Regions from separate parts of the Homo sapiens genome. Here region 2 is linked to region 1. Evidence: fine-mapped QTL for protein levels in blood plasma. A gene starts in region 1. The other region holds a variant in brackets. All regions are shown on one strand. Distances are from middle to middle. Region 1 holds the start of LRRN1 (leucine rich repeat neuronal 1). Region 2 overlaps LOC100130207 (a long non-coding RNA gene).

Region 1 (8,484 bases):
GGTTTGGCTGTGTCCCCACCCAAATCTCATCTTGAATTGTAGCTCCTATAATCCCCACATGTCGTGGGAGGGACCCAGTGGGAGGTAATTGCATCACGAGGGTGAGTTTTTCCTGTGCTGTTCTCATGATAGTGAATAAGTCTCAAGATCTGATGGTTTTCTAAGGGGCAGTTCTCCTGCACATGGTCTCTTGCCTGCTGCCATGTAAGATGTGCCTGTGTTCCTCCTTTGCCTTCTGCCATGATTGTGAGGCCTCCCTAGCCATGGGAACTATGAGTCCATTAAATCTCTTTTTCTTTATAAATTACCCAGTCTTGGGTATTTCTTCATAGCAGTATGAAAATGGACCAATACAATGACTGTCAACATCTCTGCAACAACTAAGTTCTACAAGTGGAAACAGGACCCTTTATTCAGTCAGGAATAAAACATTATTTGATATATCTGCAAAGCTGCAACTCAACTAAAATTGTAACAGCACCATAAACCTATTAATGTTAGTTCTATTTAGAACCGCCCACCATCTTGGTTTATCCAAGACTAAGGTGTGACCTGAGATGTTGAGATTTTTAGGACTAAAACCTGGAGATTCCCAGGCAAACTAAGATGGTTGGTCACTTTAGTTCTATGTCAAATTTTTAAGCTTAAATGCAAAAACTAGTTTTAATTACAGAAACGTCAATTAATCCCTTTTTTGTGTTGGGATGTTTCATATGCAGTAAACAAACAAACAAACAAACAAAACCCGAGAAGAACAGGAACTACGTATATGTAGTAAACCCACTCATTGTCAAAAATTCTTAGAGAAACAATACATTTGGTATGAAAGTTAACAATGATCACAATAGTCACAAAATTTTAAGCTACAGTCATCACCCTCTAAGAGCTTGGTGGTGGTTGTTTTAAAATCATAATTTCAGTTCAGAAATTGGAAAGAACTCTGACTACCGGTACTCTATTAATATTTCAATTAGAGAGAGACATATTTTCAACTTTGAAAAATTGCAGTTTTAAGAGGCATATGATAATTTTCTTTTCAAAATACAGATGTTCTTCTAAAGATTATTCAAATACGACTGTCTTCTGAAGTTTCATCTTTCTTTTTTTTCCTCATTTACCACATAGATCAGTACAATTAGGCTAACACCAATGATAATGTTCCTTCAAACCAAAGCTAAAGAACCTCAAGGGGCTGGTAGGGGAATCCAGAGGGGTTTGTAGTGTCTCAACACAGCCAATCGAGGGGCAAGAACTCTTTACATCAACAATAAGACCTTGCTCTCCTGGGAACTCTTGGGCTCTTGTCTCCAATTCCGTTCTCCTTCAAAAATTCCAAGGTCTTCTACCACACCTTAATAAATAACTATTAAGTGCTTTTTTACTAACTAATAAATTCAGGATCCCAGGACTGGGTGAGCTCATTAGGAGTAATTCAGATGGATTTGAGCTCTTTAAGCAAGAAGCAAGTAAGAGATTTGGTTATGCTGGTTCATTGATTCCTCTTCGTCCAATGATGCAAAAATGCGTGTTTCCTCTTCATCCATCCCAATGACAAGGAGCTTTTAAGTGTCAGTTAACAAGACAGTCCCGAAACCCCTTTGCAGAGTTAAAAAAGGGTAATTTCTAAAATTTGGACCAATTACCAATTCAGGCAATTCAGCAAATTTCTAATAATTACACCACATTTCAGACTCTTTCATAATTGTCATGCTCATTTTTCCTCTTCTGTCCACAGCAAGCCCCATCCTCTCACCCAAATTCCTTCCCCCATCCCTGACACACATTTCTTCCTAATGATAATGCTCTTCTCTCTGTCTGGAACCAAATGCATGCAGTGGTCAAGTAGAAATGGGAAAAGCTGCCTTTCTCACTCTTGCCTTGGGGAAGAGGGAAATTAGTTTAAATAAATGATATGCTAATTTGAAAAGAAATGAATCGAACAGTGGAGAGACAGAGTCCATTTCCTCCACTGGAGCAGCTAGTGCCTTTGAGATATTCTGTCACATGCGGAATCATTATCCCACCTGTCTGAATTGATGTCTTGTTTTAGTCTTCAATACCTGCCTAATAATGCCTAGAGCTTACATCTGTCGTTGAATGCTTACTATATACTAAGCACTGTCCTAAGCATTTTACATGTTTACTCCCACTTAACCATCACAATCCTTTGGGATAAGTACTGATATTAACCCTACTTTAGAGCCAAGGAAATTAAGCCTTAAAGAGATAAAGTGACTTGCCATTAGGGACACAGCTCATAAATTGCAGGGCTGGGACCTAAGCAGTGTTGGCCTGGTTTCAAAATTCACACCTTGGTCCCTGACTCACACCATTCTCATGAAGTCTCTTCCAAAACCTGGAGGCTGTTCTAGATCTGGCCTCCCAAGAGCAACTCTCACCATCATTAATTGCTCCGACTGCTCCTCCAAGACCTACCTCTGTAAAGCTCCTCCTTGAAGGGCACAACCTCATCTCTCTTCCACTCCCAGGAAGGCAGGCTGGAAACCTAATAGAGACTCCCTAAGAAACCTGCATTCTATCTTTCCCTGACCATTCAATTTCCGTACTTCCACCAGAGCCCAACTTCTATCAGACAAACTCCATGCTATCTGCATGCTAACTCCATGGATAATCTGCATGAAAAGGGGGGAAAGAGACAAAATCATGTTACAAAACTTGGGCAAGGGTCTAGACTCAACTTGCTTTGAAAGATCTTAAATCTTCCCATTCATTTGTAGACAGCAGTGGGCCTTTTTCTTCCTCTGCTCTGCACGACCTTCTAGCCCAAGTGCTAGTATCACCTTTTCCTAAAGACTTTTAAGACAAACTGTGACCATTTATGTCTACATGACACAGTTTCAGGATAACAAAGTGTGAAGACACACAAAGACGTCAAACATTTATCAGAGACCTAAGCGAAACGCCAATAAATGTTACAGGGATCAAGAATATGGTTACTGACATTGAATGTATCCTGTGGCTTTGAAGAATCCAAAGGATGATTCTCGAATAATGTATCCTTCCAAATTCTCCAGAAGTTCTAAGTTTAGACATCATAATGAAATGTCACCACGTTCCTCTGCCAGAAGTTGTTCAGTACTGAGGGGCTAATGATGCTTTCGCTTAAAGCCGATTCCCCCAATAAAGGGTGCCAAGGCTTTTCTGAAGCCCTGCTTCCGGCTGGCGACTTTGAAGCTGAGACGCAGGTTCACGCGCAGTTTCCGAAGACCTATTCCGTCCCCACCCTCCTCCCCTTCCTCGGAGACACCTCCACTTAACACTGCCTTCTCAGTCCCTCGCCGCCTGTTTAAACACAACTTCCACCCCTCACAAATCAGAAAGCTGTAATTTCAAAGTTTCAGAAACGTTTTCGGAAAGCCTCCTCCAATGGGAAGCGACTTCGCCGCTGAGTTAAGCGTCCGAATCCTCCTTCCCGCGGCAGGGACACCGGCCCGGGCCAGGTCTGCGGAGGACGCCCCCGGGCGCGCACACACAGCCCGAGGACGCGCCCTGTATTTTAAGACGCAGGGTCGGATTTCACCCCGAAACTTGGCTCCCACAGCCCCAGGCCGAACTGTGTCTGGTTCTCAGCCCCCGAGCCCGAGTTCTACGCCGCAAAGAGATGGGGCCCCATTGTGCCTAGCTGGCCTCCTAGCACGGACGTGTATTTTCTTTTGGTCTGTCTTTTGCTAAAAACCGGCAGTGCGCTTCGCCTCCCTGCCCAGCCGCAGCCTGCCGTCCCCTAGACAAAAAGCGGCGACCGCGGCCCGGCCACCCGAGCCCCGCCGCGCTGCGCCTTTGTTGGGCGGTCCACAGATGGTGCCCAGCACGGGGCCGCGCCGAGGGCGGGGGCGGGAGGCCGCGAAGAGGGTCGGGCGGGAGGGGAGGAGACGGCGGAGCAGCCAATCCGCGCGCGGCCCATCAGCTGACCGCCTTTGCTTACACCAGGTGCACGCCGGCTGCGGGGAGCACAAAGCGGGGCGCACCGCGGGCGCCGGCAACGAGCCGGTGAACGAGGCGAGGCCCGTGCGCCCGCGGCTGCAAGCGCCCGCCTGGCGGGGAGAGGGGCCGACGGCGTCAGCCCGGGCGGCGGCATCCCTAGGCGCCTGGGGCGCCTTCCTCCGGACCTGGCCGCTCGCTGCCCCGCCCTCTGCACCCCACTTCTCCGACCCTCCTTCCCAGTCCTGCCTCCCCCTGCCCTGGCCTCTGAGAGCCGACTGAGCCCAGCCCCGTGCAGCAGCGGTTGCCTGTGTCGCCGCCTAGTCTCCGGTCTTGGTGCTCTCCCGGGGGTGCCCCAAGGAGCCAGTGCGCGCTGCGGGCTGGGAAGGAGGCGCCGCTCAGCTAGTCCTCCTCCTCCTCCTCGTCTTTCTCCTCCTCCTGCTGCTGCTGCCGCCGCCGCCGCCGTGGGTGCCGGGTCCGCGCGCACCCCAACACCCCCACCAGCTGGGCCTCGGGGTAAGTCCCTGGCCGGCCGCGCCGCGGCAGGAGGTGTGGGAGGCAGCGAGGGGAAGTCGAGGCAAACTTGGTGGCGTGGGAGACCCTACGGGGTCTGGGGAACCTCAGGGTAAGATCGCGGGCCTGAGGGGGACGAGGGGGCGCGGCTCACGGAGCTGGGGAAAATGACGAAGTCGGGAAACGAGAATATAGTGCCCCGTTTCCCCCCGTCCCCCTTGCCAAAAAAAAAAAAAAAAAGGTGTGGGAGAGCGATAGTTGGGAAGGCAGGCCAGATAGAAACAGGCAAAAAAAGGCAGTGACCGGAGCCGAGCCTGCTGGATTTCAGGGGCCGACCAGGGGAGGGAGGTGCCCGGGGACGGGGAGGGAGGAGGGCTGCCGGGATGTGAACCGGGGAAGGCAGCTGGGGCTGGAGAGCAGCGCGGAAAGGGGGCCCAGGGAGCTGGAAAGAGGGCCAAGAGGAGGGCAAGGAAGGTGGCGGGCGACGGGGAGAGGAAAGAAAAAGGGTGTCTTGGCGGTGGCCTTGGTAAGAGAAAGGGGCAAGGGGTATAATTGACAAGGCACTGAAAGTATTGAAGTCAGAGCCTTGGGAAGGATCTACCGAACTCTCGGCGGTCCACGCGGGGACAGACCTCAGCCCGTGAGCCTTGAGCTCCACGCGGGGACAGACCTCAGCCCGTGAGCCTTGAGCTCCACGCGGGGACAGACCTCAGCCCGTGAGCCTTGAGCTCCACGCGGGGACAGACCTCAGCCCGTGAGCCTTGAGCTCCACGCGGGGACAGACCTCAGCCCGTGAGCCTTGAGCTCCACGCGGGGACAGACCTCAGCCCGTGAGCCTTGAGCCCAGAAGGAGTGGCAGCCTCAGGACGTTTGCCAGGTGGCCTGGAATGTGAGGGAAGCCTCAGCCCCGCCAGGAACAGAGCTGGCGCTGAGTTCCCGGCTCGGCCCGGGTCAGAAGCGAGGAAAGTTTGCCGGCGAGTGTCCTTTGTGCTGCGTGGAGAGGGGTGTGGGCGGCCGCCGACTCGGCGCTTCCCCGCCGCCCGCCCAGGGAGTCCCTGCCTGGCAAGCTGGGGCTCGGGGAAAAGTCCAGCAGCGAGAGGGCCGCGTGTCCCGGGACGGTTCCAGGGGAGCCCGCGCGGAAACGCGGACCAGGCGCTTCGGCCCGGATGCCGGATCCAGGAGAAGGGGACCTCGCTTGCCGTGTCCACCGCCGCGGCCCCAGCGCCAAGAACAGAGCCTGGCCGTGAGTGAACGACTGGCCGGGGTACAAATGGTTCTGAAGCACTTGAAGCTCACAGGCAAAGGCTAAGAGTCTAAATCCCATCCCGCCGTAAGTATTTTCATTCCCAAACCTAAATCGTAAAGGAAAAGTGGAATTCTAATTGGGTGAGGGAACAGGTGCTGCCGACTCTGGCTTTTGCGTGGAGGATTTTCTAAAAGACAACATGTTTTGTTTTGTCTTGCCATGACAATCTAAATCATGTTAGTGGAATAGGCTCATTATTTCATTTTTAAAAGCTAGGGCTGGAGGAGTGGAAAGTTCAGGAAGGCACTTTGATCAGTATAAATCTAGAGTAAAAGTGTTATTGGCTCCAGGGCCATATGTGTCCCGAAGTCTCTGATTTGCATGCAAATGTGAGCGGATCCTGGCAGATGTCTGGCCTCATCCATTCACATGAAGGAATTTGAAAAGACAAGGAGTCTTCAGTTAACAATAGACCTTAAGAAAAGAGAATAAAGACGCAGTGTGAGTTTTTCTGTTTGGGAATTCCATGGTTTGCTGACACCTTTATTCAGGAGCCAAATTCTTTAAGTGCTATTGTATTGAAAGCTCAAAGTGCTGCTTGCTCTTTACCTGGCTGTATATATTCGTGCAATATTCAAGCTGGATATTCTAAGCTAGTTAGGAAAAGGTTTGTGTGAAGCAGACAGTAACTTTAACCCACTTCTGGCGGCTTGAAGTGATTTCTGAATTGACCCCTCAACTTTTCGAGTTTTCTTTTAATAATTTGACTCTTGCTCAAATTTGGTCCTCATCTTCAGAGCTATTCATTATAGTAGAAGATCGTTGTCGTTGACCGACATGAAGATTTCCTGAGAATGTCCACTGTCTAGCTGAGAATGTCCACTGTCTAGCCAAAGTCATTTCGGTTCTTAAGGCACCAAACTGTAGAACTGCAGGTGATGCAACTGTCCCAACCCTAGTTACCCGAGTGGTTTTCAGGTCACATAACAGTGAACGGGGAGGTAGTCGTGCAGTAGACTCTGGAGCAAGGGCCTTTCTGCCGTGTCTAACATTAGCTGCGTGACCACACTGCACTGTTCACCTCTTGGCGTTGTGCGACAGCTGAACAAAAGGCAGGCAGTGTGGGCCGCACGTGAGGCAGGCGATTATATTAATACCTACGACTAACCAGCCCCAGTGGCCTCTTCTTTTGTCAACCTCAAACACTGTTGAAGGGAAAAAGAACCTATTCACGGAACAGCATTTGCCCCAGTATTCTATATATTCACTGAAAGGGACATTAAAATACAACACCCCCCCAACCCCCGCCAGAAAAAAAAGACAACATTGTTTTGGAGGGCTCAGTGTTTCGGGGGAGGGGTGGACAACAGATGTTAGTCTGCTATTTTACATGTTCCTTTAAGTTATTTTTGCAGGTTCAGTGCCTTTTATACATAAGGCAATATTTTCACAGGATGGGGAAAAATGAATTGAATCAAATTTAAGTAAGAAAATGTTATAGCCAAGTTTGCATTTTGTGTCTTAGAGCTATATAGAAGTCAGAAAGTAACAAATCATTCTAATAAACTCTTAATTTGACTCTACACGCCTGATGTCTTCCTGATAGAGTTGAAGGGTAACTTAAAATAAACTTGACATTTCTAGACTATAAACCATTTTGTTGTAAAGTTATCTAGATATTTTTGAAACCTGGTAAGTTAAAAATGACCCTCACATTTGTGAAACCTTATCTTTGGCAATTAACCTGCCTGTGTAATCGTTATTCTGCAAGTCTAATGAAAGGACAGATTAGAACTCATTCCTTGGTAAATAAAACTGATAAAGTGTTTAATTATTAGAAAAGGATCATTCTGCTAAATAAAAGATCTCAAGACCAGATCCAACTGCAGACTGTGTTTCTAAAACATAACCTCAGCTAGCTCTGGTTAATGTCTGAAATTCTGGGAAAGCAAGGAAAAACTCAACCATTGATCTCTCTCTGGTTAGTCTGTGCTAAGGCCACCTTCTTGATCTAAACTGCTAGAGCCATTACCACATATTCTAAAGCAGTGACACTCATGGGAATATACTAGGTACTAAAGAAAATCGGTCTCTACGGAGTTATATTGCTACTTCCCAAGCCAGTGGAATATAAATAATAATGATAAATAATCAGAATGGTGGGCTTTTTATACCACCATAAGTAGGCCATAAGTCATAAATAAAATATGGTAAATTATAGGATGCAGATGCCAGTTTTACGAGACTTGCACAATGCTTACTTAAAATTTATTTTTAAGTTACAAAATAATAGTTCCCCGAATGATTCATTTCAGCACTAATGTCAGGTTATTCAAATATTGTATTTAATTTTAAAAAATTATGCTGAACATCTGTTTTGGGTTAAGCCAATCTGGAGATAAAGCAAATTCCATTGTAGAATCATATGATCATTTAGAATCATATGTTTCTGGGAACAATGAAAGTATCTTTAACTCATGAATAGAGCTCTGATTAATATTTAATTCAGGATGAAATTATATGGATGAAGTCAGAAAAACATTTATTCTCTCTTGTTTTGGCTCAAAGTACAGAATAGAGATAAAAGTTAAACCCTATCTGTAAAATTCAATACTTTAGTGACCAAGGGATCCATTTGTTCTAAAGGTCTTTTTAGGTGAAGTTTGCTTTTTAATTTCTTGTTTTAGCATATATTAGCATTCACCTGCTTTACAGATCTGTTACAGAATGTAGCCTCCCGAGTTCTGAAACATAGATAAATGCATGATAAATGGTTTATTGACATT
Region 2 (8,567 bases), 33 kb before region 1:
GGAGAGTTCCTTCCTTCCCTCTCTTTCCTCCTTCCTTCCTTCCTTCCTTCTTTCCTTCTTTTCCTTCCTTCCTTCATTCATTCATTTACGAAGGTCCTGGCGACACAAGGTCTCCTCATACCTCTTTGTTGAATGCGTCCGTCCACTCACCAAATGGGTTTGAGCATCCACTCTGTTTCAGGCACTGTGGACAGTGCACCAAATAGATAGGGTGCCTTTCATCCCCTATCAGCCCCTAGGTGGATAATCATACCAATAATGTCTTAAAACTGTGATAAAGAAAAAAGTACAAGATGCCATGAAAGTGTATACCAGAGGCTGCTTACCTTAACTTAGGGACTCAAAGCAGTTTTCCCTGGGGATGTAACATTAATTAATTAGGACCCACAGGGCACTGACCATCCCTTTCCAAATCCTGGTCTGCATCACTGTCTGTTCACTTGCCAACTGAACTAATAACGAAAGTTAACATAAACTGAGGACTTAGTATGTGCTCAGCTTTGTAGTAAGTGCTTTACACAAATCAATTATTTAAACTTCATACTAAATCTGTGTTAAACCTGGTGTTATTATTTTTCCAATTTCGTAGATGAGGAAGTAAGTGGAGGCATAGCAGGATTAAGTACTTGCCCAAAGCTGGAAAACTAAAGTCAAAAATCAAATCCAGATCTGCCTTCCTTGACATGTCATGCCCTTAACACTTGACTTTCTTGTAAAAGAGCCATTCCTTTTCTAAAGACATCAATCTAACTGTTAAATAGCTGCATAATAAACACATACACACACACACACACACACACACACACACGAACAGCTTTTCCCAAAAGAATAAATGTCAATATATCTTAACCCACTTTTCTCGTAACGAGTTGATCCAGCAATAACAAGAATATTCCTCGGGTAATGCCTTTTTATTAAGAACAAATATGAGTTACGAGACACGATACAGTATCCAATCTCAGAAAGCAATTTTCGAAGATTGAGTATCTCCACTTTATGCTGCAAAATAACGAACACATGGACACCCCAGAATGCTTATCCAACATAGCTTGCCACGTTAGCATTTAAAATAGGCAAACATGTGCTGGGAGATATAAAGAAATGTAACTATACAGATGATTTCTTCCCTGTTTAGCTCAACATTGATCATTTGCTGTTAAGTAAACACTTTAACTTAAAAGTAGTCAATGAGAATTTGGATCTTTCTGAAGGAGTCACACATCAAAAGCTTACAATGGGGAGGTGAGAAAAGGCAGTGGAATGTCTAGTCCTGCTGAAAGGCTGAGAAAAATCCTTTCAGAATAAGTCATCTACTCCCAGCTACTCAGGAGGCTGAAGCAGGAGAATGGCATGGACCCAAGAGGCAGAGCTTGCAGTGAGCTGAGATCACGCCACTGCACTCCAGCCTGGGCGACAGAGCGAGACTCCGTCTCAAAAAAACAAAAAACAAAAAAAAAAAAGAATAAGTCATCTACATAAGCAGGGAAGATCACTTGATATGCACTGGCTTTATGAAATATGGGAATTGCCCCCCTTTCTGCAAGTAAAATAAGAGGAAATATTTCCCCCCTTATCCAAGTGCAAGAAAGATCATTTCCATTAACATTAGGAATATAAAAAGATTTTCTTCCTAGCTTGCTCTCCAGCAACAAGATCTCATGGACTTTCTTAACCATTTGACACTTAACACCGTTGTAAATAGTGCTTCCTGTGAAGGTTTGTAATGCAGCCTGACTCCCAATCCTTAAACATCCTGCTGTGCAGAGGGAATAGCCAAAGCCAGAAAACCCTAGAACTATTTTTCCTCTCTCCTTCAAAGCCACCAAAACCTGGTAGAAGCATGAGTTTCTTCTCCTCTACCTTTTGGACTTGGGAAATCTGGACCTATTGACATGAGATAACATGTACACATTCTGCCTAAATGTAATGAATGTTTCAAAGGTTTCACAGAAAGCTCAAGCAATGCAACAGAATGGATCTTTTATGGGGTTTTTTTTTTTTTTTTTTTGCATTTTGAGAGGGTAGGTGAGGAAAACATGTTTTTCAAGCTCTGTGATGTTGCTTGATAAATCACAGCAATATTTCTGAAGCGTATTTAATTACAAATTGGCTTGAGTTTTCAAAAGGACAGGGCTTACAGATAGATATGTCCTGAATATGAAACATTACTATACTAATGATGCATTAAATTATTTTATAAAACAAAAACCCGAGAGTACATAAAAATGTATCCACAGCTCATCATATACGCTATGTGAAAGAGAGAGGCTCTTGGCTAAATTTCAAATGCCTATGAGCACAAGAAAATGGAACCGTCTAACTAAGCCTTATGTTTTCATTCCCTCATCCCACAAATATTTAGCAAGGGTTTACTATGGACGACACTATTCTAGGTACTGAGGATACAACAGTGAGTGAAATAAAGTCTTCTTCTCCAGGGACAGAGGTTCTATTTGGGGAAACATGATAAAAAACAAAACAATGTGCAATAAAATGTTAAGGAGGGATTTGGTCTCTGCAGATGAGTTTTGCAACAAAAGAGGGCAGGATGGAAGGTGGCTAGGAAGGGTGATCGAAGGAAGGTCTTATGAAATGGTTTGCCAATGTCATACCTCCTATCAAGAGGTGGTGAAATCCAGAAAATGTCTTGAGTTAGATGGCCAGGAGATATGGACCCTCACTATACCCTTCTCACCAAGGGCTCGTTTTTGTTAGGGACACTTATATTCAAGATCTTAGGCAAGCCCAGAAAACTAAGAAGACTTGAGATATTAAATAATTGGAAAGAGATCTCTCAACACTGTTTGCTCGAAGGCCAGGTCTTTTGCTTTATTGGGAAGCAGGAAAGAACAAGGACATTGGAAGCAGAAAGACCTAAGTTCAAATTCTAGTTCAACGTCTTGTCTGTGTGACCTCTGGTAAGCTGCTTTATCACCTTTCTCACTCCAACTCAGTATCTTCATCCATCAACTAGAAATCTATAACTGCCTCAGGAATTTCCGTGAAGATTAAGTCTGATCATGCATGCAAAATTAACTCAACGCTTGGCACATGGTGAACACTCAATAAGTGGGATATGGCATTATTGTAGGAGATAACAAATAACACAATGCTAATACCTTTAAAACAAAGCCAACAAGACTTTTTACTTTCTCAAGATGCCCTTTCTCTTTTCCAGGTGAAACGATCTTATTATTGTAAATTGCTCTCTTTAGGCTAAATGGAACCTGTCATGTTATAGATTGGTCCACTAAATATTTTCATTTTAAAAATAATAGAAGTAATTTGCAGCTATTCAGATAAGCTGAAGGAAAAAAAATCTACTGAAAACTAATGCAAGTCATTCAGTGACTGGGTACAAATGATTTATAATTTCAGGGGCCAGGTTTTCCCGGGTTTGGACTCACATGAAGACCGGTCATGGAGAGAGAGGAGACTTGGGTACTGAGTGGGTGTGTTTATGTGCATTTGATTGATTGTATTCTAAATATAAATATTAAAATAAACTTGAACTTTGATTACTTCACGGATTATTATTACACAGAACTCTCTGCTAAAGCCGGCAGAGAGACTTAAGTGCTGACTTGAAATATATTTCTAGGTATATTTATATACTACTCAGAAACAAAAAGGAAATAAATATTTTTAAAGCTTTGCAAGAAAACAACATGCAGCAAAGAGATTAGCCATTTGGTGACCAAAGGCTCAGCCAGGGGAAAGCGTATGTCAGGAATGTAGACAGTATGCGACGGACAGACATGGTGCTATTTGGAATAGGAGTTCCCAAGAAGGATCTCTTACATTTGATCCATGAAGCAACAGGTGTTCTTGGAAATAGGATCCTAGGTTTGGCTCAGACCACAACCTCTGTCAAAATGAGAACAAAGGATTGGAAAAATCACCACCACACTGACAATTCCCATTAACCTCTGGCA[T/C]GGAACGACACACTCTTATCTGCCCACAACTGCTGCCCAGTCTGCAGCCTGAAGCTTGTCTCCATTTACAGGCTGTGGAATTACCCTAGCCTCTGAAAATTCACCAAGAGCAAATACTGCTGCAACCTGCACTTCTTTGGTGACTAAGACCCCCCTAAGGCTCAGAGGGAAGGCTTGCAGATATATGTTTATCTTGATGAGCACATATCACATTGCCTGGGCTTTTCAATCCAGGCCAGTAATTGTCCCTCTTTGTTTGGAAAATGCACAGGGATCGAATATCCATCAGTCTAAGGCAGTATATAGGGGAAAGAGGAGGAAGGAGCAGGGCAGAAGTTGTTGCCACACACCCATGGCCATGCTACTTTCTCAGCTAAAAATGTGGGGGTGTGTAGTATAGCAGTGACATCCTGGAAGAGGCTTCTAAAGAAGGAAAGGCTAATACAGGACACTGCCCAACCCCTAACCCAGGACACACATCCCAAATTGGTGCAGACTTTTTCTTGGCTGTCCATAAATAGCCAATCTCAATGCAGCCATCCAGGCAGTCATTTCCAACTCATCAGACCTGGTATATAAGAAGAAATCTGCTTCATGTATTTCTGCATAAGGACATAGTATAATCTTTCCCCTGTAGGAGATGAAAACCTAAAACAACCTCAAGCTTAGGGATTTTAACACCATTCATTCCTGGCTAGATTTTGACCCACATGGCACCATTCTAGAAACCACATAGTCCATAAAGGAAAATGTTATTGCAAAGTAGCAAATGTGAAGGCTTGAAATGTCAAGTGGATTTAAAGAAAAACTGTACTTCTAAATGGTAACAGGTGGCCTTTACTTTTCACACTCATTTTAAGAGAGAAGATCACAGAGCAGAACACGCTCTTCCTGTCAAGGTGAAGATGGATAATCAGGCAGGAGGTGAAAATTAAGTCCAACATAAGGATGTTACAAGTCAAAACATTTGAAAAGGTTATAAAAATTTGTTTTCCATGATACTCAGTGGTTTTGAATCCTTTTGTGGAAGGATAGTATGTGGAATTTGTTGTGTCTTTTCAACTATGATCTGTCCTTCAAGTAGAAAAAAATGGGTTTTGCAGAGAAGGCCAAGTTGTATTTCAAGAGGGAAAAAAAAAAGACAGTAGAGAATGATTGACAAATAAATACTTTGGTGACAAATACTTGCATGTGTCTTCTCTACAGTGTCATCCAACTCTATAAACAAAGTTGAGTCTATCCACATTTAATCAATTCACAGGTGACTTCCTACCTGGAAGAGAACTAAGCCTGGCAGCCAGCAAGAGGCTCACTGTGAAACCAAGGTCTTTTAGTTTTGTACACAAACCATTGTGTCGTAGCTCCTTATTGGCTGTGTTTTCAATTCTTCAAATCTAGCCGGTTTGCATAAGCAAACAATATTTCCACTCCACCATTTGATGAACTAATGTCTTGTGCTACCAAAATAGAGAACTTTAAGATGGAAAACCTCTATGGAGGCCTCTAAGCCATCTTCCTGCCAAAGTGGCATTGTTGCATGGCATGTGTTTTCTAGTACTTTACTTAATCCCATTTTAAATATACCAAGCAAAGAGCCTTTCACTGCATAAGCACTCTTCACCATCCAAGAGCTTTCCTTCCTTATACTAAACGTACACTGAACTAAGTTCAAACCATTATTTCTTTTTACTGTTCCCCTCCAGCACCCTATTTTGTCCCCAGTAACAATTGTTATGGAGAGAGAGGAAAAAAAAGAGTGGACAGAGAATTGATTGTCAGAAGCCTTCAAAAAGAAAACAAAGAGTTGAAGAACTAGCTTTTAATTCTGCTACAGAATGAAGAATGCACGAAGCACTTTATGAGTTAGTTGATTCCCTGCAGTAGCAGATGAATTTTCTACTCAGTACCCCTAGTTTTTTAAATGCCTTTTATGCTTTCTTCATTCCCACATGTTATGTCTCACCCTACTACATCCTTTGGGTGTTGATTTCCACAGCTGAGTTAATGCAAGATGAAAGAGTTGCAGAAATTCTGAAAGAGGAAGATCTATTACACCCATTTAATGGGAATAATGTGTTTTTTTTTTTCTGCCAGAAACTCCTAGAGGAATACATTCATCTTTAGCTAATCCTTTTAATCATTTTAAAACAGATTTCCTATTATTTTATTGTATAATGAAATCCTTTACACAGTTGATCTACTAAAATGAATTCACAAGTTAGGCAAAACGATGTTTAGATTTTGACATTCCAATGATAATAAACAAATTAATCTTAAATGATAAAATCACTGATTAGAGTCATATGATACAATGATTTCTAAGGTCCAGAGAGGTCACTCAAAATTCTAAGATCTTTTTTAAAAATTGCATAACAATTTTCAATTCAAAAAGTAAGGAGATGTGATGGGACTGACTGTCAGAGAGGCCAGTCATTCCTCCTATACATAAAGGAGGATATATAATGGTCCCATGTATCATAATTTATGCCTGGAGAAACCCCCAGAATTTTTCACATTTCTCCTTTTCATTTCATACTATTTCATAAGTATGTTTCATCAGTTTTCATAAAGTCCTGTTTTCTTTTAACGACATGTGAATGCATTTGTGGGAGCATACAAAAACTCTAAGAATAATAATAAATGAGATTTAGTAGGCATTTACTTTAATCCAACAACTAGTGTAAGCTCTGTAGGTAATAACACATTTCACCCTAACAAAATAGTGATGGGTTTTATATTAAGGCCATTTTAAAAATGAAGAAACTGAGGTAAAAAAGTTAAGTTACTTCTCTAACTTTATTCAGTTAAAACCAGTGTGTCCAGAACCTATATGCCCAACCATCATATTTCATTGCATCCCTCAAAAGAGCACCCTAAGCTGATGCCATCTACTACTCCACAGTTTTTTCTCTCAACCTTGATTGAACATTAAGAAACAAAAACTTAGTAGCAATTATCTGAGTTGTTTGCCTTCAAAAGTTGCTAAAAAGAAATACTCAGAAATTTTCTGAGGCCAGAGGACCACTTCAAAACAGCTATACTTGTTGAATGTTGTTTCACTCCAACTAAAATTATATATTGTCTCAAAATGGTGTGCTCGGAAATAATTGGCACCATCTTGCCCATTTCTGAGATCAGGTCAAGGCAGTATTCTAAAGAGTGGTCGGCAGCCATCTTATACTAACATTCATCCTGGAGAGGATTAAAACATCAACAAGATGTAATTGCTTTATTGACGCACCCCTCATTCCACGGAACCCTCACCACCACACTGAGGTGTAGAGAAGCACTTCCCTAGATGAAATGGAAGACACAGAGTTTGAACCAAGGTCTGTATGACTCCAAAAATTTCTCTTTTGACTCTGCTATACTCACAGACAGCATGAAGAGAACTTCTAAGCTTCTGGAGCAAGGGAAGAGCTTAGATACAGTTTATCTTCATTTTGCAAGAATTAAAAACAATCTCCGATATCAACCCTTTTCCATCTCTATTCTCTCTTTTGGTTATACTTCTTCCAGATAATCCATTCCCAAAAATATGACACCCATAAATCCCTCTCTTCTCTGAATTCCTACAGAATATACATGCCACCACAATTTTCTCAGTCATTACAGGAAACTTGTATGTTTACTGAATAGTTCCATGCATGTTCCCTCCCTATAAACATTTCAAAGGGTTTCTCTTATATTCTGAATAGATTGCTTATGATTATGAGATTTTAGAACAAGAAGGAACTCGTGGACAGCATCTGGTAGAAACCAATTATTTTTACCAAGGAATAAAACTAGTGTTAAGAGAGGTTAAACAGCCCATCTCAGGTCACACAGCTAGTTAAGAAGCAAATTAACACCAGTATTTAGAGGTTTTTACTCCTGATCCAGAGCTCTTAACCCCATATCCAATTTTTCAGCTGAAGAGAAGCCTCACAGGAGATTATACAGAAATATCTGGCTGCTTCCATGTGTTCATATTCACATGCTCAAAAAAATTATACGCAGGACTAGGGGGTCTGAAAATAAAAAGACCATTAGTAATATTTAAGAATTTCAGTATATAGGAGATTTGACAAGGACTGGAGTCAGAAATGTGGGATAACAAACTTTAGCCAAGAATAGACGGCAGAAACCCCAGGACAGTATACATGATATTAAACCCATGCAAACCACAAGAACCAATGATCAAAAAATGATATATGGATATTTAGAAACAAATTTCTTCTCCACTGGATGCCAGTGTGAATTTACTGAGAATAAGTTGCCCTAAGCTAACCTCATTTCTTTCTTTATAATTTTATTACTGGTAATAATTAAAGCTACCATTTATAGGAGAATCTATTAGTAATGCCATGTGTGTATGTAATTGCTTTATTAGCGTACCCCTCATTCCACAGAACCCTCACCACCACACTGAGGTGTAGAGAAGCCCTTCCCTAGATGAAGTGGAAGACACAGAGTTTGAACTCTGCTCTGACTCCAAAAATTTCTCTTTTGGCTCTGCTATATTCACCGAGAGCCTGAAGAGAACTTCTAAGCTTTTAGAGCAAAGGAAGGGCTTAGACACAGTTTATCTTAATTTTATAAAACATATGACAATCTTCTATAATCACGTATTGTTATGGATATTAGCATTTA

What was found. A credible set is the group of variants that fine-mapping cannot tell apart. PIP is the posterior inclusion probability: the model's chance that the variant is causal. Protein levels are from the aptamer-based SomaScan assay of Sun 2018.
Region 2: its variant is the best candidate, but not a certain one, in a credible set for the plasma level of the LRRN1 protein (Sun 2018, PIP 0.50).

Annotation. Positions count from the first base shown.
Region 1 is chr3:3,795,465-3,803,948 of GRCh38, forward strand. It overlaps LRRN1 (leucine rich repeat neuronal 1), which reads left to right and starts at 3,967. Exons shown (of 2, transcript NM_020873.7): 1 at 3,967-4,455. It overlaps LOC100130207 (a long non-coding RNA gene), which reads right to left and starts at 5,411. Exons shown (of 6, transcript NR_149025.1): 1 at 5,237-5,411. RefSeq lists silencers at 3,868-3,937, 3,948-4,037, 4,178-4,287, 6,821-7,115.
Region 2 is chr3:3,761,973-3,770,539 of GRCh38, forward strand. The region is part of intron 5 of LOC100130207 (a long non-coding RNA gene); the gene reads right to left. Among named protein-coding and RNA genes, the nearest start is that of LRRN1, 33 kb to the right of the region's middle. The variant T/C (reference allele first, on the strand shown) is at 3,936.